Linked DNA regions of Homo sapiens. The protein of the gene in region 4 purifies or fractionates together with the protein of the main gene of each other region. This does not show direct contact. Each region holds a gene or a part of one and is shown on either strand. Other genes may lie near its edges.

Region 1 (3,500 bases), on a different chromosome or scaffold from region 4:
TTCATCTTCATTGCCACATTAATTGATTTGGGCTAATTCAAGAATTTTTAACAACTCAGAAAATGTCATGGAGTAAGAGTTCTCACAAACTATTCTGATACTACTTAATTAGAAGAATAAATTTAAAATTTTGGACAAGAGCCGGTTTTCTTATATCATCTTCACTCACTTAACTGAACAACTTAAAATATGACCGTCCTTAAAGAAACTAATACATCTTTAAACTTTGAAAAAACGTATCTATACCCCCTTCCTAACAGACAGTTAAAATTAAAAACTTACAAAAGCAGCATGCTTTCCGCGAAGTCCTCTTGTACACTGTTGTCTCCATGGCTTCCAAATAATAAAGCCCAAAAGGTACAAAACAAACATAGATGTTTTTGCAAAGGTGCTGAAGAATGGTTTGTTGTACTGGGTAAAAACATACTGTAGAGGAAAAAGTTACACAGACAACTCTGAGATGACCTTAAACCTTATTACTCATCTCCAAAATAAAGTCACTACATGATTTTTAACTCTTCAGAAGTTCACTTGGAAAGAAAAAGTCAAAGCGATTACAAAAGTATTTTAGATCCATTTCTGAAGACTGTATCGGCCTTGCACACAGAAGGGCACCACCAAACAAAGCAGCAACAGCTGCTAAAAGAAGTTGGGTTTACCATTCGTTGGGACCTACCACGAAACAGTGCCTACACTAGGAGCTAAAGAAAAGTAAGACAGGGCCAGGCGCGGAGGCCCAAGCCAATAATCCCAGCACGTGGGGAGACCAAGACAGGAAGATTGCTTGAGCCCAGAATTTCAAGACCTGCCTGGGCAACATGGCAAAACTCCGTCTCTGCAGCAAAATAGAAAAATTAGCCAGGGTGGTGGCGTGCACCCTCAGTCCCAGCTACTTGGGAGGCTGAAGCGGGAGGATCCCCTGAGTTCACAAAGGTTGAGGCTGCAGTGAGCCATGGTCAAGCCACTGCACTCCAGCCTGGGCAACAGAGCAAAGACCCTATCTCATAAAGAAAAACAAAAGAGAAGGAAGGGAAGTTATCCTGCCCTTGGGGAGCTTAACATCTAATAGAGGAGACATATATATGAAGAGAATACAGCATCATGTGCCAAGTAACAAGAGACGGGTTCAGGATGCCACGGAGCACCAAAAGGAGACTGACAAATTTCAAGGTTATGGACGTTTCCCAAGGGAGACTGTTTTTTTGTTTGTTTGTTTGTTTTTAGTGTATTGTGAATATAAACTCACAATTTTTTATATCCTAAGAAAATTCCTAGTTATATCCACTAAAAAGGCATAGAAAAAAATGACAATCCAGGAGGAAAGTGCAACTCTAGGACGTAAATGGTGGTCCACGCCATTTTACACTAAAAGAAACAATGGCTCTGGCCAGGCACAGTGGCTCACACCTATAATCCCAGCACTTTGGGAGGCCGAGGCGGGTGGATCACTTGAAGTCAGGAGTTTAAGCCCAGCCTGGCCAACATGGCGAAACCCTGTCTCTACAAAAAATACAAAAATTTGCAGTACATGGGGGCACCTGCCTGTAATCCCAGGTACTCTGGAGGCTGAGGCAGGAGAATCACTTGAACCCAGGAGTCAGAGGTTATAGTGAGCCAAGATCATGCCACTGCACCATTCCATACTGGACAACAGCGTGAGACTCTGTCCCCAAAAAAGAAACAATGGCTCCTATAATAAATGGCCAAATCCAGGTATGGAGCAGAAAATGTACAAGATGGGCCCAGGGCATCTTGTGGTGGAAAGAAAATGTTAAAGATTAATAAGATGTCAGGCACAGTGGCTCACGCCTGTAATCCCAACACTTTGGAAGGCCAAGGCGGGTGGATCACTTGAGGTCAGGAGTTCAAGACCAGCCTGGCCAACACAGTGAAACCCAGTCTGTACTAAAAATACAAAAATTAGCTGGGCGTGGTGGCAGGTGCCTATAATCCCAGCTACTCAGAAGGCTGAGGCAGGAGAATTGCTTGAACCTGGGAGGCGGAGATTGCAGTGAGCCGAGATAGTGCCATTGCACTCCAGCCTGGGTGACAAGAGCAAAACTCTGTCCCATCTCAAAAAAAAAAAAAAAAGATTAATAAGGCCATATTAAAAAGACTTAAAGAATTCCAGCTAATAAATACAGAGGGAATAACTCAAAAAAAAATCACCATTTTGCAACCCCTAATGAAATACTTTATCTAGACAACTTAAACGTGGATATTCAACTATTACCTAAAAGTTGGTGAGGAATTTTATAGTACTTAAATTGGCATCATCTAAAGTGAGACTTGCAGTCATTATGTATGTCATGCTGGAATGTTACAGGAAGTACTCAGTACCCCAAAGTATTCTTTCCTGAAAACTAAACCTAAATCAAGACTTTACACCTAACTACCACTTTACAAGAAATAAGAGAAAAATAACAAGTTAAATGATACCCCAAGGAAACAATCAGCCAAATCCAGAATGTGTGATACATCCAATAGGAAAAATGACCCAGTTTCTCCAACAAATTTATGGTATTAAAAAAAAGGAGGGAAGATACAGTTAAGGAGTAAAAGATACCACAAATGCAATGCGTGATCTTCATTTAGATCCTAACAAACTTAATGGGAAAAAAAAGTGCTTGACACCACCGGAGAAAACTGGACTGGAGAAAACTGAACATAGACTGGATATCAGATGATCTTAAGGAATTACAGTTAATTGTGTTAACTATGTTAATGGCATAGTGATTATGTTTAAGAAAATTAAAAGTCCTTTTCAGTTTAAAGTAAATAGGAAAGAAATCGTGGGTGAAATGGCATGTGACATATGCTTTAAAATATGCTTTAAAATGCTCCAGGAAAAAAAGTTTTGAGGAGAGGTTGATAAGGTTGGCAAATTTGGTTAAGTGCTAAAGCTAAGTAACGAATACATGGAGACTCATTATAATATTCTACTTTGTATATGTTAGAAAATAACCATAATAAAAAGACTGATTTTCTTTTTGAAATACACACTTTATCTCCAAAGTTTGTTTTTCTTTTTTTTTTTTTTTTTTTTTTTTTTTGCTAAGGAGTTTCACTCTTGTTGCCCAAGCTGGAGTGCAATGGCATGATCTCAGCTCACTGCAACCTCTGCCTCCCAGGTTCAAGCGATTCTCCTGCCTCAGCCTCCAGAGTAACTGGGATTACAGGCACCCACCACCACACCCAGCTAATTTTTGTATTTAGTAGAGACTGAGTTTCACCATGTTGGCCAGGCTGGTCTCGAACTCCTGACTTCAGGTGATCTGCCCACCTGATCTTCCCAAAGTGTTGGGATTTCAGGCGTGAGCCACTGCGCCTGGCCCTATCTCCAAAGTTTAATGAGCATAACTGGTTGAAGAAGTAGAGACATTACATACATTCTTGAATAATGAGATTGTAAAACATCCTCTTACTAAAATATTTTACTTTAAAAAAATTAAGGTAAGTTGAGTTTTTTCCTCCAGTTTCATCAAAGTACAACTGACAAA
Region 2 (3,500 bases), on a different chromosome or scaffold from region 4:
AGAAGGGTTGAGCTTGCCCCCGCCCTACCAGGGGCCCTGGCACCTGCAGCTGCCCCGGACCCTTGGCCAGCCTCAGCATGGCGGGGCATGGGGGTGCCCCTGGACCTGCCTTAAGGAGATGAGGTGCTTTCTTCTCCAACCTCTTATTTTTTTCCCTTACACGGTGTGGGTGTTGTTTTAATATTTTAATTTTTAACACTAAAATACATCTTAATCTTTCAAAAGACTGTATAGTAGGGTCTATTTGAGGAACAGGAGCCAGCTTGTCTACTGCACCCATATGCTGCAGCATTGGTTGGCTCAGTCAGAATGAATGAGCTAGGTTTATGTGCTGTGACCTGTTTTGGTGGTTATGATTCATTAGGTGAAAAGGCGAGCTGAAGAAACTCCACTGATACGGGTTTATAGATGCACATATGCTTGAGACTGGAACCACCACGTGCATCAAATTGTCATTAACGATTATCTGGGAAGTGGGCTCAATGGGAATGGTCTCCTGACACACTTTCCATTTTCTGCGCTTGTCTATTGCTTGGGCCTTTTATAGTGAGCATACTGCATCTTTGTGTTTGACAGAAAATAACTGAGTCCTGTCCATTTGGAAGAAGCACGTGATCTCTGTGTGCTTGGACAATGTGCCGTCTCTCCCGGGCTCTCCAAAGCCTCAGAGGACGCCAGGCTTGGGGAGACAGGGCCTTTCACAGGGAAACCCCAAAGTCTTCCTTGGCTCCAGGAAGCACGGACCTGCTGTTCACAGGGCAGGAAGCAGGCACGACAGGCTGCCCCGCCAGAGGCAAGGAGCAGGGTGCACAGGGGCTTGCCACCAAGAAGCAGCAGTAGCCCGAGAATACCGGTCACCTGGAGCCAGCGCAGACCCATGAAAAGCTCTGTCGCCGAGTGTCTCCACTCAGTGTCATCCACCTGCAGCAAAGGAGAAGCCACAGGCGCCCCCAGAGGAAGGCAGGGAGCTGCCCATCCGTCCCCGCCAGGCTCCAGCACAGGGCTTTCTTCAGAAGCAGGAAATGATGCCAATGAGCAGAGCTGTCTGCGGAGGACAGGGAGGGAGCACTCCCAGCTGTCGGGGAGTGAAGTGGCAGCTGCATCACCACCCAACAGGGAACGTGTGGAATCCAGCCCCAGGTGGGAGGCTGGACCGTCCAGGCTGCGGAGGGGGTCCCAGGCCTGGTATTCGAGGGCCTCGCACTCATCCTGAAGTCTAATCTTTCCCTGTGATTGCAAGCTGAGCCTGCTCCTCATCCACGGCACAACTGCCTATACAGATGGCCTTCGTCCCAGCCCTGATGCCACCTCTCCCAGGGTGGTGCTGTCAGCACCCACCAGCCCCTTGCCCTCCACTCACCCACAAAGAAGACGAGGATGAAGCTGGCCAGCGTCAGGGAAGACCCGCTCCTGATCATGCTGACCAGGAACTGGAAGAAAGGGTAGAGCACCAGCGAGGCCCAAAACAGCCAGTTCACGAGGGTCCAGGGCCGCCGGGGGGGCACCATGGGCGTCTCTGGGAAGGTGCCCGTCCTGTAGTACTCCTCCTGAAAGGCATCCTGGGGGACAGGAAAGAGGACCCTCAGACGCCACACGGGGCTCGGTGGCAGGTCCCTCCCGAGGCCCTGCTTCCAAGGGAATCGCAGAGATACACAGGTGCCACCGGGGCTCGGCAGAACTGGGGTCTGCAGCTCCTTCCAGAAAGCACTTTGTAGGCAGCTGCTGTCTTCTCAAAGCTGCATCTGGCCGCCCCTCCCACAGGGACACTGGGAGTGGTGGGGCCGCTGCAGCTGTCACTGAGTGCAGGGCGTGGAGCATGAACCCTGGCGCCAGGCCAGCCTGGGCTAGGATCCACCCTCTGTGGGCAGGCACCTGCATCCCTGAGCCCAGGCCCCAGTCTGTCTAATGGGGCAGCAGTGCCTTCCACGATAGGTCGGCGGGAGAATGGAGTGGATGCTGCGCCGAAGCTGCCCGCAGGGGACACTCGGTGGAGACCTGGCCCGCAGTCAGGAGGAGCTCGCCCAGCCCGGCCCGGCACATGCCCCGCCTTCCCGGCCTCCACAGCCAGTTCACCTCGGGCAGCCCACCCGCACCTACCACCCTGTTTGCCACTGGAGGGCTCTGAGGGCCGTGATTCAAGGCATCATGAATGACAAAGGGCTGGAGGGCTGCTGGGTGTGGCTCTCAGAGGTGACAGCACACTCAGGACTGGGTGTCCAGGGTGACTCTTCTAAGTGATTGTTAGACCGTGTGAAAGGTAAACAAACAGGCTCATGTCCTTCCACTAAGCAGATCCTTAGTGGGAACCATGTACTCATCCACATCCACCCACAGGGTGTGTGTGTCACCGAGCAGCTTGCAGGGCAGTTACTCCAGAGCCTCATGGCGCTCCTTGCAGTCCCTGGGTGAGAACAGGGGACTCACGGCCCCACATAAATGCACTGCGAAAGAACGCGGTGGCTCTTCCCTGGGTGTCTCATGTCACGGAGCTCCCGCTCAGGGACTGGGGCTCAGCCGCAAGGAGCTGCTGAACACAAGGGAGGGACCCAGGAACCCAGGTCAGCAGGCGTGCTCAAGCGGCTGGGAGCTGAGCTGAGCCAGGACCTGGGGGGAACAAGGAGCTGTGGCACCAGGATGCCCGCTGGCCCGTCTAAGGGCAGGTCCTGGCCGTGAGGAGGGGCCAGGGCAGAAGCTGCCTGCAGGGAGCAGAGCTGAACCAGGCAGCCACAGGGAATTGCCCAGGTTGTATGGTGGGCAGCTGCCTCAGCTATTGTAAAAGCTGCACGTGGCCGATAGCATGCACGCCACACAAAAATGGGTGTGGGTCACAGTGAGGCCCAGTTTGTGTCCCATGAACTAGCCTAGTAATGTCCCAGTTCTCTAAGGAGTCGAGTTTTCTGGAAAATGAGCTTCCTTATAATTGAAACTTATACTACTTAAATGCTGAATATTTTCCTTTAACAACTTGAGATAGAAAAGTCTAAAGTATCTCATACTTTTCTTCTTTTTCATTCAGGGTGTACTGAATCATAGGCTTTCTTGGCCTCTCAGAGGCACTTTTAATAATAGTCCACACACTAGGCCATTTTGGAAGGAGAACCCCCAACCCCTTCCCTGGGCAGTTCAGGTGCCTCTGCTCTGTCCTCGGCCCCCTGCAGCCCATTAACAAGCCTGGTCCGAAGCGTCACTTGTCGCGTGACTCTGCTGTTGGACATCAGCCAAGAGAAGCCATGGGGGCTCTCAGGGGAAGTCACATCATCAAGCAACTGAAGAACAATCAACGTGTGTGCCAAGCACTCCTACCCTCAAGCAGTGAGAGCGATCAGATGGTGGAGGAGACAAGGAGGTGAGCACCATGACGGTCAGCAGCACAGGCAATGCCCAGAGAGGTGGCACCCAACTCTGCCAGGGAAGCAGCGGCATTCGCCTGCCCACCAGAACGGGGTGATTTTCTTATCCCAGGTTGGGGCCACAGGGCACCTGATAACTAGACAAGGGGG
Region 3 (3,431 bases), on a different chromosome or scaffold from region 4:
TTCTAGAGTCCATCACATCAGACAACACAGAGTATTCCTTTCCTCACTGCAAAGTTCTACTGAACAGTGCTGAGTATGAGAGTATAGGGTAAGCATGGTGCTGTCTCATGGAGCCTCAACTCTATCTTCAACAGTTTAATCTTTAGTCTAAATAAAAGTGGTTTATAAACCACTATATTCTATGAAATCCCTTTAGGAATTGCCGTGGGGGACTCCACCTTGGCAGCATTGCGATAACCTGCTTTACCCCCTCCAGCTTCTACGTTTCAGTGAAACACCGCTTTTGAAGAAAGAATTCTGCCAAATTTTTTTTTTTTTAAGGCTCAAAACCCACTGTTTTTTAAGCAGGAATGTGATAGATTTGGGTTTTAGGAATATTATCTCTCAGAGCAGTGTACAAGATACGTGGCAAGAAGAGACTGGGCAGACCAAGATCAGCATAGGCTAATGGTGACATGATAAAGGACTGTATTCAGTGAAGCCTCCAAAGAAATGCACAGTTAAGAATTTGTACCAGTAAATTTATTCCAAGTAAGACTTGTGTGCACACACCAGGCAGATAATTTCCACACAAACACCAAACATTGTAGTAAAACTAGTTAACACTTTGGCCATGAAACTCAAAGATACTTGAAAAACCTCTCGATAGCACTTTGAGTCACTTAATTCTGACAAATATTAATATGTCATCCATGCTTGCCCAGTTATAATTTTACAATATAATTGTATTTTTCATTGTACTTATTATTCATTATACTTACTATATATATTTAAAACATCTTTGCTGAAATTCTCTTATCCCAAAAATAATTTTTCAGTAACTCCAAAATACCCACATGTACCTCTTAGCAGGCTATTCCAATATCAAAATTCTTTTTCTTCAAGTAACAAGTTCTCAATCCACACCATTCCTGATCACAGATATAACTGATATGCAGTTTTATAAACAGCTCTTTTACTCCTTGTTCCTATTTTAGCAGGCCAACCATCACTTCACTGATATCCCAGAGTTTTCTTGCAACAGATTCATCCATAGCTTTGGGCAACAGTTCTTCCTCTTTACAATCCCCAAAGTATCTTCCTGACACTCCTTCTACCTCAGGTGAAGAGGCCAAATAAATGGAAGTCTGGGCACCTTCTACTGGAGTTTTGAAAAAAGCCCATGACACCAAATTGAAGAGTGGTTTGACCAACAGTGGAATGTGTATGTGCCTCCCCAGATTTGTCCGTACAATACCAGGATGCAACACATTGACGGTGACATTTGTGCCTTCTAAGCGGCGGGCTAGTTCCCTGGTAAAAAGAATGTTAGCCAGTTTGCTCCGGCTATAACAAAAGCTTTTATTATAGCTTTGTTCACTGTTCAAGTCATCAAAATTGATGTCTCCGTATTTATAAAGTTTGGAAGAAACTACCACAATCCTGCTGGGAGCTGAACTTTTGAGGAGTCCAAGGAGAAGATTGGTGAGTAGAAAGTGCCCCAGATGGTTCACTCCGAACTGCATCTCAAACCCATCTTCAGTCTTCATGTAAGGGCACTGGAAGATCCCTGCGTTATTGATCAAGACATCCAGCCTAGGCTCTTCCTTTAAATGTCAAAAAGAGAATGGCAGAATTATTAAGAACACACGCCTTGTATTGCTTTTTCTGTTCATGATAATTACATTTTAATAAAAATGGGCACTTGAGACTAAAAGCATTTAATTTCAGTTGTTGGTCTATCGATCAGAGAACTACTTGAAACACTGGCAATTTTGTGTTTAATAAATGGGGAAAGGGATTCCTCCGCAGGATGTTCCTCAGATAAATACTGATGTTCATGATCTTTCATTCAACAGCTCTTTTTTCTCATTTATTAAAATGATATACAGAAAGATATTTATCTACAGTCATCTTCCAATAAAAGATGTAGAAACTAAATCTAAGACTTAATTTCTGGTTTTATGCTTTTATAACAATAACATTTACAAATATATAAACTTTAACATTGCATTAGAAAGTTGACTACGTGATCAGTACCAAGATCTTTCTCAAAACAGAAATACAGTCAATTTGAGGACAAGGCACTCCTACAATCCCATATTTCTCCCTTTAATTTCAGTTGAACTAGGAAAATATCAATTTGGGAGTTATCAGGTTAATACTGAGATCATATCAAAATTATAAGTGTACCTATGATAAAATGTTTAAAAATACTTGCAAACTACTAAAATTCTATCCCAAAATGCTTCTATGAGCTTCCAATAATTGAGAGAAAAATAGAAAAAAAAATAGATGCAGAAGCTTGATAGGAGCCAGGCTTTGTGCTTTTCGCATGTCACCACATCTAATTCCAACAACTGTATAAGCAAATGAAGCTCACAGGCTAGGTGACTTGCCCAGTATCAGAACTCCTAAGTAGCAAAATAAGATCAGATCTGAAGATGAAGTCTTTGACACCAAGGCCTATTTTCTTAATTAGTAAGCTGGCATGGCTTTCTAATTGGGATTTTCAAAACAGCTAGAGAGGCAATGAAAGCTAGACAGACCATATGCTGTAGAAAACAGGTAAGCATAGTTTATTCCCAGAGCTACTGGTTATCAACACCAAGGGCAAACTTATGGTTGCTTTATTCTGTAGTTCTCTCAGGGTAAATGGCACCATGGGGGTGGAACAACTTCAAGTCATTTCCTTAAAAGTGAAACAAGCAATAGAAAAGGTCAGAAATGCAAACTTAACACTGGAGAGAACATCATGAATAAATCGAGATTCATAAAGAATAATCAAAGATTAAGAAAAAAATAATCAGGTAATATAAAAATATCCAGCGTAAAGGGGACTCTAGGAGATCTGTACAGTCAACATTTTATACTCTGAACTTATGCTTCTGTATCTTTCCAAATTAAAGTCCTAAAATTTAGACTGTTCTCATAGGGAAGTCTTTTTATTCCTTAAATCATGTAAGATGGTCTTCTCTAGCCTTTTCTCGGTTGTTCTGTTTCTTTTGATGGACAAAGAAATGCACATGTTCCAAGTGTAAAGACACTGTGATGACCCATGATTAATATGAGGTCAACTTTCAAATTTCACTGGCCCTTCTGCCAACTATAAGTGAAAAGAAAAATGTGTTACATTTCACAACTGTTATCGAAGCCCACCTGTCAGAGGATTAACTATTTCTCATTCTGCCCTGTCTAAGCATCTTTGGGTTTTCCAATAGTCAACTTCAAAAAGAAGGCAAGAGTTCACTCATGGGGGAAAGAAAGGAGTATTCTTTTTCACAAATCCTTTGGAAGATTTTCCTGAATTAATCATTTGTTATCCAGCATTCTTTGCTGGGCTTGTGTTATTTTAAAATTTTGTCATTTACTATTTTTTTAAATTCTACGAGATAAATGAAATAAATACCAAGAATACCAACCTGTGGGAAATCTACATTTCCATTTTTTTT
Region 4 (3,500 bases):
GAGATCGTGCCAAGTGTGCCACTGTGCTCTAGCCTGGGCTACAGAGTGATACTTCATCTCAAAAAAAAAAAGAAAAGATATTATACTTTGGACAGGAGCTGTGTTCCCATCTGGGACTTCCTGGAGAAGATACAGTACAAAATAGTTACAGGTACTCACCAGGTTTTCATCAGAAATGAGGGAGCTCTAATTGTAGGAATTTCTTCAGAATACATTTCCAAAGCAAATGGAAAAGAAAAGGAGTCCAGAAATGCTGATTACTCGTTGTACATTAAATCTTTATAACTGCGTCAAGATTATTCACCTTGATATCCTATACACTAACCCCAGGAGTTTAGGTCTTATTCCCAGGGTCTTATGGGATGTGCTGGGGTTTCTGGAAGCCTGGCTAATTGCTATTATAGCAAGTCTATAGTCACTCACTAGGAGACTTATTTGCTGCATATTTAGAGATGTGATATATTCTGAATGTGAAACAAAAGGATTCATAAATCTCTGAGCCTCGCAAGGACCCATGAGAAAAAAAGCATTTATTCATATCAAATATATAAGCAAATTAATATATAAGCTGGAAAGGTAGCACTTCAAATCTTATGTCAGACATTCTTCACAACTGAAAGAATTCCTAGTGATTTGTAATTTTTCTGCATATACTTTATAAAAAATCTGTAGTCCAGACCCTCACCTCAGCCATTGAACAGATAGTGTCTTGCAGGTCTAAAACACATGTCATTTTCTGTTTTTAGACTACATCATTGTATTTGGTTTAGATGAGGCCACGTTGTGATACAAACAAGCCAGAAATTTCAGACGTTTGACACAAACATTTATATATACAGAAAAATGAGAAGGTGGTAGGGAGTTAGGTAATTTTGTTTTAAATGAAAAAGGGACAGAAGGAAAGCTATATAAATGGTTGGAGTGTATAGACAAAGTAGAAGAAAAATATGTGGTCATGAATGAATTAAAATATGGTTATTAATGAATGTTGGGATGCTGGATAAACAAATTAAAAATATGGGGTGCTTGGATAAACATCTTCATCTTTCAAAACAAGAAGTCGTTTTATCATGCCTCCAGAAAAGAGCAGCATAAGCACATGATTTAGAAACATCATGATAATTATCAAAGGAAACATCTAAAATTGTGCAAGGATTATCTCTGGGAAATGAGAGTGGGAGGAGGGAACTTTTGGGCACAGTGAGGTAGGAGACCTCATATTTCATTATATACCTTATTAAATTATTTTAAAACTATGTGCATGTATTACTTTGGCAAAGAAAAGGATTTAAAAAACCCAGAAGATATATTTGGTAATTTTGGCATGTAAGTTGCCTGTCGTCATGTTTTAAAATGTGATGGCAAGCCTGGTAGGGTACTCAGTTGCAGAGAGTAGAAGAATTGCTGCTCCATCCTCCACCCTCTTTCTCCTTCCACTTGAAATACTTTCTTAGAAAGTATTCATTTGGAGCAAGAGGAAGGGAGTAACTAGAATCTTACGAAATTAGAGGTTGTTTGAGGCACAAAGTCTGATGTGGAAGATTTGGAGGCTGGGGAGTAATAAGGAAATTAAGGAGCTTAGGAAGAGGAGTGGAAAATAGGTGCCCAACCGGTAGGCAGTTAGAAGAAACAGAACTCCCCAAACCACAGCTTTCATAACATTTCATGAGTCAGTTTTCACACAATAGATGCTTATTTAGTTGTAATAGTGGAAACTCTATGTAATAGTGGAAATTTCTATATCCTGTACCCAGGGGTGTTCCCAGGGACAGGCATCATTGCATAACCCTATGCTCCAGACTCAGTCTCATGGCTTCTTGTCTTCACAGGCATTTTCTTTTTGCACTTTCTTTTCGTTTAAAACCATCAACACCACACGACAACAAAGCATTAGGATATATGATCATCTTTCACTCACGTAGGAGAACAAGAAATGGTTTTAAATGGAATCTGGAAGACTTAGACAATGCTAAGGAAAAATTTAATGATGGAAATATCGACAAATATTCAACATCATTTAAAAACAAAGTAGCTTCTCTTATTTCACATAGCTTAGTTTGGGATAGAAATAGAACTAATGTTTACAATGATTCTTACATTTAGCATTAATCAGAAACGAGGGTTTGTTAAGTGCCCTTGCTGGGTCCCAACCCCCAGAGATTCCGATTCAGCAAGTCTGGGATGCGGCTTGAGAATTTGCATTTCTAACAAGTTTCTAGGTGATGCTGATGTCAATAGTCTGTGTACCGTTTGAGAACCGCTGGATTGATTCTTTGACAGTTTTTGAAGTCCGCTGCTCACCATATCACTTCATCCTCTTATAAACTTTCACTATGTGATTGCCTAAGAGCCCCTGCTTGTTGGCTGCTCCACATTTTCACACAGTTGTACTATTTCTTTCTGAAATGACATTGTTTGAGGGACAGTGGGTGGAACGTGTGAGCTCCTCACTGAAGGCTGCCTCCAGAATTCCCTGAATGGACTGCCTTGCTTTCTTCCTAAAATCTTTCCCCAAGAGGGCATAAAGGAAGGGATTAAAGCAACTATTGGCAGATGCTAGAGCAATGCATACATGATCCCAGGACATCAGAGTTTTCCCCAAGGGAGTTTCTGGGTCAGTAAGCAATGACAGGACTCCAAAAATGTGGTATGGAGTCCAGCAGACAAGAAAGACAGCCACCACCACCACGGCCACTCGAAAGGTTTTGCTCTGAGACTTGGCGAAGCGGCCCCTTTGCATTCGGAAGACAATGAAGCTGTAACAGGCTATCATGATAACAGAGGGCAGCAGGAAACCCACCACTAGCCTAGTGATCGTTATTGCCACGAGGGGTGTTGGCACTTGATCGTCATCTGTGAATTGGCCTAAATTGTAATAATCCTGGAAACCTTGTGGTAGCTCAGACTCGTAGAAGGAATTGCTAGAAGCGCTAGGGAACAGCTTTAAATGAGTAGAGAGAAAAGCATCAGAGTTATCCAGTGGGCTGGTTTCGTGATCTTCAATAGGAAACCCACTGGGGATTTTAGGTGAGACCACATCAGCAGGTTTAAATACATTAGAATACAGATTTTGACTTGTTAACCTAGCAGAACCCCTAGGGAGTGAATCTGCAGAAGGTCTTTGAAATGTTTGAGGTTGGAAGACAGTGGGGACTGTCCAAGGATGATCATTTGTTTGGAAAGAGGAAGGATCTAACCTATCATTCATTTCTCCAGGCGGCTGAACAATGTTTTCAAGAGACCTGTTTTCTAGTGGATCTCCATAAAAGTCTGGATAATCTAATGAGCTGGAGAGACCAAATTTGTAGCCACATCTATTATGGTTGTCTGTAGTGAAGATTTCCCGGTACACGAACACAGGAATGCACATCACAAAAGCCACCACCCAGATACATCCACAGATAGAGCAGGCCATCCCTACATTGCGATGATTCTGACACCAGATTGGCTTGAATACCACAAGACAGCGATCCAGGCTAATGGCAGTAAGCAGGAAGACA
Region 5 (3,500 bases), on a different chromosome or scaffold from region 4:
ACATAATGGTGTGCTCCTGTAGTCCCAGCTACTCGGGAGGCCGAGGTGGGAGGGCTGCTTGAACCCAGGAGTCAGAGGTTGCAGTGAGCTGAGATGGTGCACTGCACACCAGCCTGGGCAACAGAGTAAGACTCTGTCTCCAAAAAAAAGAAAGAAAGAAAGAAAGATTACAACATATTCAGAGGAACACCAGAGAAAGAGATGTATAGAACAAGGTATGGAGAAAGAAGCGCAGAGCTTCCATGCCTTTTCTGGATGCGCCATCCTCTCCAGGAACCTCCATGTGTTCAGCTATCCAGAAGTTCTCCAAACCCTGTCCCCTTTTGGGGTTTTTTTTATTTATTTATTTTTGAGGCAGGGTCTCACTCTGTCATCCAGGCTGGAGTCCAGGGGTGCAATCTCGGCTCACTGCAACCTCCGCCTCCTGGGTTCAAGCGATCCTCCTGCCTCAGCCTTCTGAGTAGCTGGGCTTACAGGCACACACCACCATGACCGGCTAATTTTTATATTTTTGGTAGAGACGGGTTTTCACTATGTTACTCAGGCTGGTGTCGAACTCCTGGGCTCAAGTGATCTGTCTGCCTTGGCCTCCCAAAGTGCTGGGATTACAGGCGTGAGCCACTGCGCCCAGCCTGTTTTATTTTTGAGACAGGGTCTTGCTCTGTCACCCAGGCTAGAATGCAGTGGTGCCATCACAGTTCACTGCAGCCTCAATCTCCTTGGCTCAAGCCAACCTCCTGCCTCAGCCTCCCAAGTAGCTGGGACTAGAGGCACATGCCACCTTACCTAGCTAATTTTTCTATTAGAGATAGGGTTTTGCCATATTACCCAGCCTGGTCTCAAACTTCTGGGCTCAAGCAATCCACCCACCTAGGCTCCCCAAAGTGCTGGGATTACAGATGTGAGCCACACCCAGCCCTTTTGGGTTTTTAATGAAGACCTCATAACATAGACGTGATTGATTCAATCGTGACCACTGGTGAACAAGTTAACTTTCAGTCTCTTTTCCTCAAAGTTGAGGGTGAGGCTAAATCCCAACCCTCTAATCCAGGTTTTGTCTTTCTTAGGCTCCCATCCTGAAGCTACCTAAGGGCAGCTAGCCATTGATCATTAGCATTAAAAAAAAAAAAACAAAAAAAAAAACACTATTACTTTGAAGATTCCAAGGATTTCAAGAGTTGTATACCAGGAAATGGTGATGAAGACCAACTATTTACTCACTAGCACAATACCATGATTTCATTTATACAATTTTCTAGGAAAAAACAATACTGGTCTATAGTGACAGAAAGCAAATCAGTAGTTGCTGGACACCAGCCATGGGGATTACTGTCAGCACAAGACAATTTTTTGGAGTTCATGGAAGTGCACTGTATCTTGATTGTGCTGGTGGTTACACAGATCTATATATTTACTAGTCAAAACTCAGCAAACCGTACACTTAAAATCTGTCCATTTTACTGTATATAATATACACTTCAATAAAGCTATTTTTAAATTTTTTTAAGCTTTCACTTGTAGTCAGTTACATATACATACCTCTAATTGTTGCTGTTCCATTTTCGTCAATAAAAATTTGGAGTATATATTGCTTTTTTCAAGCAAATGTTGAAGTCTACGGTACCGAATTTCTGTCGACTCTCTATCCCAAGACATGCGAGCCTATCCAAAGAGAAAATTTCCATAATTATGAACACTTTCTGACATACCTTAATTTTTTTGGCATAAAGTTTAATAAAAATGGCTAAAATAACATTTTTTAAACCAAACACTTTCAAACCAAAAACTGGAACAAATAACTGTTAAAAAAAAAATAGTTTTTGGGTTTAACAGGCAATCTGATAGATGCAATTCGTATATCAAAATATTATAATTTCAAATATTGAACACATGGTTTCTGGCACTACTGAGTTGGAAGGTCCATTTAAAAAACAATTGAAGGCCGGGTGCGGTGACTCACACCTGTAATCCCAGCACTTTGGGAGGCCAAAGCAGGCGGATCACCTGAGGTCGGGGGTTCGAGACCAGCCGGACCAACATGGAGAAACCCCATCTCTACTAAAAATACAAAATTAGCCAGGCGTGGTGGTGCATGCCTGTAATCCCAGCTACTTGGGAGGCTGAGGCAGGAGAATCGCTTGAACCCGGGGGAGGCAGAGGCTGCAGTGAGCCGAGATCATGCCACTGCACTCCAAACAAGAGCAAAACTCCGTACCAAAAAAAAAAAAAAAAAAATTGGGGCCAGGCACGGTGGCTCACGCCTGTAATCCCAGCACTTTGGGAGGCCGAGGAGGGTGGATCACCTGAGGTCAGGAGTTTGAGACCATCCTGGCCAAAATGGTGAAACCCCATCTCTACTAAAACTATAAAAATTAGCAGGACGTGGTGGCGCATGCCTGTAGTCCCAGCTACTCAGGAGGCTGAGGCAGGAGAATTGCTTAAACCCGGGAAGCGGAGGTTGCAGTGAGCTGAGATGGCACCACTGCACTCCAGCCTGGGTGACAGAGTGAGACTCCGTCCGGAAAAAAAAAAAAAGGTATGTGTAATTTGCTAAAACATTGATGTTGTGGTTCCGTGTTATTATATTACCTTGTTATGTACAGATAAGGAAAATTTTTGATTAATTTTGCACTTGACCCTCATAAAAAGTGATTGCCTAGGTGACACTAGAGAATTCTAAGACAAGTTTTCAGAGTCTCTCCCTATTTGAGATTAATAAACAAGTTGATTTGGATAGAACATTTTAGAAAAATACTACCAACACAATTCATCCTAACAATCAAAACAGACATCTAGCCAAGATTAACACCCCCACCCCGTTTTTTAAGGCATGGTCTCATGCTGTAATTGGTGCAATTGTGGCTTACTGCAGCCTCCAAATCCCGGGCTCAAACCACCCTCCCACCTCAGCCTCCCAAGTAGCTGGGACTCTAGGCAGATGCCACCATGCCCTGTTAATTTTTTGTATTTTTTTTTTTTGTAAAGACAGGGTTTCACCATATTGCTAAGGCAGGTCTCCAACTCCTAAACTCAAGAGATTCGTCTGCCTTGTCCTCCCAAAGTACTGGGATTACAGGCATGTGCCACCATGCCCAACCAAGATTACCAATTCTGTAACATGAATCCAGCCTAGTAAATCAACAAACATGTACTGCAACAATTATATAAATTATGTAACTGGTAGAAGACAGAAAGTCTGATTTATACTACAGATGAGACATTAGTGTAATATCTGAAAACAACAAGTATTAAAGACATATACATAGCAGTAAACTGTACAGTACTATCTAAATCCTGAAAAATTGTAAGAATTACTAAAACTGGAGAAGTCAGATTTCAGGAAATAGATGACATCTGAGGGGTCTGAAGGATGGATAAATGAGAGCAGAAAAACTCAAGTTTTGTCAATTACTGTAGAAGTTCCTGCTTTAAGCAACACTGGCCTCAGCAACAGCACTAAAAATCACACTTAAGTTAACTTTAGAATTAAAAAGATTCTA
Region 6 (3,500 bases), on a different chromosome or scaffold from region 4:
AGCCTTTTTTGTTTTGTTTTTGAGATGGGGTATTACTCCGTCACCCAGGCTGGAGTGCAGTGGCACCATCAAATCTCACTACAGCCCTATCTGCTGGGCTCAAGTGATTCTACCACCTGACCCACCGTAGTAGGTAGGACTATAAGCAAGCACTACCACACCCTGCTGATTTTTTTATTCTTCTGTAGATAGGTCTCGTTATGTTGCCCAGACTGGTCTCGTTATGTTGCCCAGACTGGTCTTAAACTCCTGACCTCAAGTTATCCTTCCGTCTTGGCCTCCCAAAGCACTAGGGTTACAGGCATGAGCCACCACACCCCACCCTGACCCTTTGTTTATACACAGATTTTTCATCACAGAAAACTGACTCATTCTAGATACAAATTTGTTGCTTCTTATACTATTTTAAGGCATTAAGGACATCAGCTTTATTTTTCATGTATAAAGTTGAGGAGGTTTACATGTTTTAATGTGAAGAATATCCACAATTGAGAATATTTGTTTAGTCGGCAATTAATTACTGTGTATTTATGATGTACAATTACGCTAAGGGCATATAAGACATGGGTGTCTATCCTCCAGGAATTTAAGTCTAATAAGGGAGATATGTCAGAGACAGAGTGAAATAATAATAGCAGGCAATATGTGATTATATATGATTAAATGGCAACTTTAAGAAACTAGAAAACAGAAGATATCTTCCGTTCATGTCATCATTGTTTACCCGCATGCAGATCAAAGTAAAACCTAAAAATGACTATATTCAAAGCTTGTGTTTGAAGTCAATCATCTACAAAGTGAGGAAAGTACACTCAAAGCCATATATGCAGTGACCCACTAGGTAATGTGAGAAAATGTTAAAGCTTCTATTATAATAATTTTTTATCTTTTTACTTAAAAAGGAAAAATAAAATTTACAAATTTGAGTTTTTAAAGCTTTACCAAATTTATTTTTTCTTTTTAGCACACCTCTGCTGGCAGGAAAGCTTTACTAATTTTTAACGATGGCAGTCTCATTTATTGATATGCCAAGCAGGTCACTCCTTATACTCTGTTTACAAGGTAACCTAAGGGCAGAGAAAGCTTCCACAAACAGAGAGTTGACAGTAGGACCTTCAGCATTTTACAATATATATTAGATTATTTTCAAATTATATTGTTAAATTTTAACTAAATTACCTCTCCCAAAATGAGCAAGTAGCTTAAGCTGATTTCTACAAAGAAGCCATGAATTGAGGTAATAATAATAATAATAATAAGCACAAGCAAATAAGAAAATAGCAGATCAGGAACTCTTTATCAGACACATGAAGTATAAACAAAGATGATCTAATCCAATCTGACAAGTCAGTACCCCCTTGGAAAAAATTCAAAATTGTCAAGAGGCTAAATTGAGGCAGATTTATAACCACCATCTTTAATTCAAATCTTGCCATGAACATATACTGAGCTATTAGTTAATGAATATAATTTAGAAATACATGTCAAATCCTACAATAACATGACCCACGACAATATGAAATTGGCCGCCAGCTCCTATCCCCATGTTCAAACAGAAGAGAGCTGAAATTTTTATTTTCTGTGAAGTTTTCTGTGAAGCAAGGTCAGGAAAAGGAGGGCAAGGACACAACAGAGAAGAAGACAGGTAACCTTGAGTCTCAAAAGATAGGGAAGAAGACACATTGAGTCCCTGCTTCCACAGTATTCTCTCAGCCTAATCTCTCCTGATTGCACTGATGACACGGGCCAAATAACCAAATTCCTGGTACTGCCACATTGACTGTATGATAGTGGTGAATCATCTACTCTATTTTTGGCTCATTTCTACGTTGGTAAAGTGAAAGGGACATATCAATACACCCATAAAGCTCCTTCTAAGTCTCATGTTGCATGGTCCTAAGGTGAGCTATTACAATAGTCACTATTGACTTGTGAACTGGTAAAGAATTTACTGTATGAACAAACACACTACATGGATAAAGAAGCTTAACTGCTACATGGCTGCCTACAATGTTAAGGTAACAGAACAGACTAAGCAAATTCTCATGATGCCAGCCAACTCCCAAGAGTTTTCATCAATTATTCATTCAGGGAAATATAAAGAACACCTATACAAATCACAGAAGTAGGTAATCAGGGATAAAAGATGAATAAGACACAGTTCCTTCCATAATACATTCATTCTAGACATTTACTGAATGCCTACTACGTGCTGGGCACTATTGTAGACACAGCAACATGGCAATGAACAACAGACAAGGTCCTTGGTTTTCAAGGAACTTATATTCTAGTTAGGGATATACTCCCTTCCCCATTTTCAGAGCAGAGTAAAATACAGACTACTCCTCAGACCTTGACCTAAAGAATGGGTGGACTCCAAGTGGCAGCAAACAATCAAACAAGATCGTATCATGACTGGACCACCTGACTAGCAATGAAAATGCACTGCATCAGGAGCCCTGACACCTGGGCTCTGCTAACTTGCCATGAACCTTTGGAAAGTAAGTTATTATTTTTGCGTCTTGAATTCATGGGAAAAGTTAAAGGGCTAGACTAGATAAATGGTTCTCAAACCTTCCAAATGTCATGGACCTTTTTGAAAATGTTACCAAAATTAAGGCCTCTCTACTTAAGAGAAATGCACAACTGCACATGTAAACTAACTTTTCAAGATGTTCACTAATTTCAAGATGTTCACTAACGCCCTGAAGCTTATCCTATATGCCAGTTTAAGAATCTCTCAACTAGGTAATTCACTGAAAAGCCTTCCAGCTCCAAGTATTCTATGATTCTATTCCATTTTACTTCCTCTCGTCTTCCTAGGATTCCAGTCTACAACCACCTCAAGATACTAGAATAAAATGGTTTTTTTGTTGTTTTTGTTTTAATTAAGATACAAAGGGAAAAAAAATTTAAAGAGGGAAAAAAGAGAGATACCAAGAAAGAAATATGTAGCTAGCTCACTGTCCTCCACAGAAGAGTGAAAAGCAGAACAAGATATTATGAAAATTATCTAACAGACATATGAATACATGTGTGGTAATTTTTACAACATAGCCTCAAAATTATTTGCTACTTCTCCATCAAGAGGTAAAGGTCTATGTCCCTTCCTCTTGACTCTGAGCTTTGTGACTACCTCACAAATAATATATTTCAGAAGTGATGCTGTGCCAGTTTGCAGGCTCAGGCCCTAGAAACTGGCAGCTTCTTCTTCCTGGCTCTTTCATTAGATGGTCACTAATGGAACTCAGCCACTATACTGTGCAGAGGCCCAGGTCACGTGTAGGTGTCTCTACTGAAAGTTAACTGCCAGATGTAAGTGAAGACACTCATAGATACTGGCCCCAGCTCTCAATTCATCTCCAGCTTATGAGTCTTTGCAGCTGAGGCTCTAGACATGGTGGAACAGAAACAAACCAACCCTGCTGCAGTCTCTCCAAGTCCCTGACACACAGAGTCCATGAGCATGACAAAGCCATGTTTTATACCACTATGTTTTG
Region 7 (4,106 bases), about 87 Mb from region 4:
AGTGTCTAAACAATAAAAATAGACAAAATTAATCTAGGTTATTATGTTTAAATAGTGATCATTTTGGGGTAGGGAGTAGTGATGGAAAGGACCAGGAGGGAGCTTCTGGTGTGCTGGTGATGTTGTTTCTTTTTTCATTTTTTATTTTTTTGGGGCAGAGTCTGGCTCTGTCATCCAGGCTGGAGTACAGCGGTGCGATCATGGCTCACTGCAGCCTTGACCTACCCAGGCTCAAGTGATTCTCCCACCTCAGCCTCCCGAGTAGCTGGGACTATAGGCATGTGCCACCACGCCCAAATAATTTTTGTCTTTTTTGTAGAGATAGGGTTTCACCATGTTGTCCAGGCTAATCTCAAACTCCTGGGTTCAAGGGATCCATCTGCCTCAGCCTCCCAAAGTGCTGAGATTACAGGTGTGAGCCACCATGCCCCATCTGTCCCGTTTCTTGATCTGGGTGCTGGTTACATGGGTGTGCTCAACATGTGAAAATATAACCATCCACACACTTGTGATCTGTGCCCTGTCCTTATGTAAATTATACTGCAATAAAAATTGTGTATATCAAAGAGCAAACAAACAGCAAACTGGAAATTTTTCTGCAAGTATGACAAAGGCTTAGTAATATATGAAGAACTCACGCAAGTCAATTTTTTTAAAGCTAGCATCTAATAAGAAAATGAGCAACAAATATGAAGAGAAATGTTCAAAGAAATAAAAATAGCTAATAAATGTATAAATGCATAAAATGTAAATTAAAACAATGGAATGTTATTTTTGCCTATCAAATTAGCAAAGATTAAAGGAAACTGTTAAGGCTGTTGTTGAGGATTTGGTGAAACCAATACTCTCTTATTCTTAATGGAAACCGGAATTGGTATAACCTTTCTGCGTAAGTCTTAAATGTTCATATTCTTTCACCCACTAGTTCTACTTCTAAAAATTATTCTGAGGAAAATCAGAGTTGTAGTTAAAAATAGGCTTATATCACTGTTGATTACAATGGTATTTTTTTAAAAAAAGGTTATATTATGATACACGTGAGGGGATATTATAATATTAATGTTTTCAGAGAATGATGAATGGGAAAAGATTCACGATAAAGTCAAGTGAAAAATATATACAAAATTCTACGTGGTATACCTTTTGTTTTAAAAAATATCACACACACATTGTGTCTTAATATAGAGGCTAAAAAATTACACACACATAAACACACATTTACATAGAAATAAAGTCTATAAGAACACATACCGTACTGTTAATAGTTACCATCTTTGGGTGGTGGGATAATGGATGATTTTAACTTGGGGGCTTATTTTCTACAATAAAATGTTCCTTGAGCATATATTACTATTATATTCAGAAATCAAAAATAATGGGTAAAAAAAATACACCCATCAGTTACCCTTACTCTAGAAAATATTTCTCTCTCCTTCAGCTACCACATTCAATCTATAAACATTGCCTCGATTTTAACTTACAAGTGTCTGTCCAAGCCATTATTCCATTACGTCTCTCATTTCATCTCAGGCCCTTGTCTTCCCTAATGAACGCCTCATATCTAGACTCTTCACTTCGGTAAAATGGCCACATTTTCCACTGCTTCTTCATTGCAGCCACATCAAGCCACTTTACATAGCCACCCTCCACACCCCGCCCCCTAAAAATGCACACCAGGTACTTTCACACTTCCCAAGCTTGGCATAATCAGTTCTCTTTCCCTGTAATACATTTTCTCCTGCCGGTTTTTCTAATCCAATTCATAGTTAAAGATTCACCTCGGATATCGCGTACTGGGTGTAGCCTCTGGGAGGCCGCAAGAACAGAAATTAATCCTTCAATGACAGTTTGTACATATTTCAACATTTAGCATTCTGTCCTGTCTGTGCCTCGCTCTCTCGCTGTATGGCATGGGCCACTTCATTTTTAAATTTTCTTAAAATCTAGTTGGATAAATGAAAGTAAAGCGTATACATGCAATACACATACGTACAGGGGTGCGAGTTTTGACCTGTGTCTGATGGAAAAAAATGGCATCAAAAACACTCGCCCGATTTTTTTCATTCAAGATGGCAGAGAACGTCTTAAAATAGTCCCACACAAAAGCACTCACATCTAGAGCCCCGAGTCAGAAGAACTGGCTACACCTAGCGCAACAGCAAAGGACAAAAGAATCGAATCTAGATGCTGAGATGCCCTGGCCCTAACTACCCACAGTAGGTCCCACAAATAGACTTTAAACCGTGTTAGAAAACGGGCACCTGCTGCCTTCATTCCGAGGGCCACGCCTTGACGGTGAACAGTGACCTGAAGCACTCTGGATACTGACCCAAAAAAATCGCGGATGGAAAAGGAGGAGGCTAAGTTGTGACTATCTAAAAGGCACGATTCGGCCCCGCCCCAGCCGGGCGCAGTCCCCCCCGCCGCACATCCATTCCCAGGAAGGAAGAGACACCGCTCCAGCCCAGAGCCTGGCAACCGGGCACCGTCTGGGAATTCTGGGCGGGCCCGAGATAGAGGCCGGCCACGGCCAGGGCGCCTCTGGCTACACCTGTCAGGCGACGACGGACTCTAGGCCCTGAAATCGCTGGGGTTCGGTGGTCGAGGCCAGCTGGAGCGCGTCACCCGATCCCTCGCCCCGGGAACGCCTTGCTTCCTCGATTTCCGTCTCGTCCTTCTCAAACAAAGGCAATCCACACCCACCGCCATTTTCCTCTTACCTCAAAAACCACCTCTTCGTCAAACTCCGGTGTCATCCTTCTCCGCCATGCCACCCGCCTCAGCACGATGGGAAATGAAGGCGGGAGTACAGGCGGCACGGAGCTCCAGCTCCTGCCCGTCCCGTGGGTCCAGAAAACTACAATTCCCAATATGCCTCGCCGCTCACGCCCCCTTTTCGAGCCCGCTTATTGGAGAAGAGAGTGAGCGTGTAAGCGAGAGAGGCGGGAGCGAGCTGAAGCTCGAGCCCTCCGATTGGAGGAGGCTAGGGCTTTTGTCTGCCTTTTACGGCCGCGACTAGCAGGGGGCGCCCGGAGCACTGCTGATTTTTGGAGCCCGAGAAGGGCACGCGCCAGCGGAGCCGAAGAGAGCACTGCTCGTGCCCGCGCCTGGCTGTCAGCCTGCCGCTCTGCGGGGCGGTGCTAGTGCTCGCCCGCCCGACCCCGGCGGCTCGCGCCCGGGAGCGCCGCAGGGTCGCTAGAGTCGGCCGCGTCCTTTGTGTGGCGCTCAGGCTGCGCCGCGGGGCGGCGGGACGGAATGTGGGCGCTGCGGGGGCTTTTCTCTCCTACCCGAACTGTGGGAACAATGGACTGAAAGGGGAAGATGGATTGAGGGGCCGAGCGGGGAAGCGAGCTGCACCGGGGAATCATGACTTCTGCAGCCGGTAAGTGACGGCGCTCGCGCTGCCGCGGGAAAGTTTGTGGCGAGCGCTGCTAGGCTTGGGCTCGCGAGCAACTTTCTTCGCCGGGGTGGGCGAGTTGTGTGCCCCGTACCTTTGCCGAGCACCTCGGCAAGCGCGGAGCTAATGGGATTCGCTGCCGGCTTTCTCGTCTTTTCCTGCCCAGAGGGGCTGTTTGGAAACCCGGGATTTCTCGGGATCTCCCTTCCAAGGGGGACTGTGCTGGGGGCTCTGCACCAGGTGAAATGCGATGTGTGAAGGGCGTTCGCTCATCTCTCCAGCAGTGCGAGGACTTCGCCTTTGCATGTGAAAATAGTGTAGATTCCCAAGTTAATAGATCAGTTATTATAGGTAAAGGCAGTGTTCTCAGCGTGTTCAATTTGGCCACTAAGTGAGTCGCTTTCAACCTTGTATCTGCTGGTAAACCTTTTACCCATTTTAAAGAGGCGTAGACATTGTCATGTCCTGGTGGTTTTACCTCTGTTACCTGAGAAGCAGAGGAGTTGAGATTGTTGAGGTTTTTTTTTTTTTTTTTTTTTTGCTTGTCTGCACCCAATTACAATTATTTTGTTTGTTTCTACCTGATTAGGGTAAACAAAGCTTTATTTTCTGTCTGCCTCCCATAGTTCTTTCCCCTTCATCCAAATGACAAAGCCTCTATCTTTGTGTGGATTTTCAGCAATTCTAGACGTTGTGTTTCTGAACATTC

Evidence for each region.
Region 1: the proteins of C3AR1 (region 4) and SLC35F5 purify together in Homo sapiens (affinity purification with mass spectrometry; 2 studies listed by BioGRID and IntAct, with this or other methods). This does not show direct contact.
Region 2: the proteins of C3AR1 (region 4) and AGPAT4 purify together in Homo sapiens (affinity purification with mass spectrometry; 2 studies listed by BioGRID and IntAct, with this or other methods). This does not show direct contact.
Region 3: the proteins of C3AR1 (region 4) and RDH14 purify together in Homo sapiens (affinity purification with mass spectrometry; 2 studies listed by BioGRID and IntAct, with this or other methods). This does not show direct contact.
Region 5: the proteins of C3AR1 (region 4) and HELLS purify together in Homo sapiens (affinity purification with mass spectrometry; 2 studies listed by BioGRID and IntAct, with this or other methods). This does not show direct contact.
Region 6: the proteins of C3AR1 (region 4) and ZDHHC13 purify together in Homo sapiens (affinity purification with mass spectrometry; 2 studies listed by BioGRID and IntAct, with this or other methods). This does not show direct contact.
Region 7: the proteins of C3AR1 (region 4) and VEZT purify together in Homo sapiens (affinity purification with mass spectrometry; 2 studies listed by BioGRID and IntAct, with this or other methods). This does not show direct contact.

What each region holds. Positions count from the first base shown.
Region 1 is NC_000002.12:113,750,143-113,753,642, forward strand, and holds part of SLC35F5 (solute carrier family 35 member F5), read right to left. Parts: intron 427-3,500; coding exon 283-426; intron 1-282.
Region 2 is NC_000006.12:161,138,062-161,141,561, forward strand, and holds part of AGPAT4 (1-acyl-sn-glycerol-3-phosphate acyltransferase delta), read right to left. Parts: exon of another isoform or gene 3,017-3,500; intron 2,406-3,016; exon of another isoform or gene 1,560-2,405; coding exon 1,361-1,559; intron 1-1,360. UniProt on the Homo sapiens protein: Converts 1-acyl-sn-glycerol-3-phosphate (lysophosphatidic acid or LPA) into 1,2-diacyl-sn-glycerol-3-phosphate (phosphatidic acid or PA) by incorporating an acyl moiety at the sn-2 position of the glycerol backbone.
Region 3 is NC_000002.12:18,554,223-18,557,653, forward strand, and holds the end of RDH14 (retinol dehydrogenase 14), read right to left. Parts: intron 1,587-3,431; coding exon 969-1,586; 3' UTR 501-968; downstream 1-500. Other genes in the region: NT5C1B-RDH14 protein, read right to left, coding at 969-1,586. UniProt on the Homo sapiens protein: Retinol dehydrogenase with a clear preference for NADP. Displays high activity towards 9-cis, 11-cis and all-trans-retinol. Shows a very weak activity towards 13-cis-retinol. Has no activity towards steroid.
Region 4 is NC_000012.12:8,056,360-8,059,859, forward strand, and holds the end of C3AR1 (C3a anaphylatoxin chemotactic receptor), read right to left. Parts: coding exon 2,378-3,500; 3' UTR 485-2,377; downstream 1-484.
Region 5 is NC_000010.11:94,552,288-94,555,787, reverse strand, and holds part of HELLS (lymphoid-specific helicase), read right to left. Parts: intron 1,663-3,500; coding exon 1,540-1,662; intron 1-1,539. UniProt on the Homo sapiens protein: Plays an essential role in normal development and survival. Involved in regulation of the expansion or survival of lymphoid cells. Required for de novo or maintenance DNA methylation. May control silencing of the imprinted CDKN1C gene through DNA methylation.
Region 6 is NC_000011.10:19,120,168-19,123,667, reverse strand, and holds part of ZDHHC13 (palmitoyltransferase ZDHHC13), read right to left. Parts: intron 1-3,500. UniProt on the Homo sapiens protein: Palmitoyltransferase that could catalyze the addition of palmitate onto various protein substrates. Palmitoyltransferase for HTT and GAD2. May play a role in Mg(2+) transport.
Region 7 is NC_000012.12:95,216,501-95,220,606, reverse strand, and holds the start of VEZT (vezatin), read right to left. Parts: upstream 2,801-4,106; 5' UTR 2,757-2,800; coding exon 2,721-2,756; exon of another isoform or gene 2,262-2,720; intron 1-2,261. Other genes in the region: FGD6 (FYVE, RhoGEF and PH domain-containing protein 6), read left to right, coding at 3,367-3,382. UniProt on the Homo sapiens protein: Plays a pivotal role in the establishment of adherens junctions and their maintenance in adult life.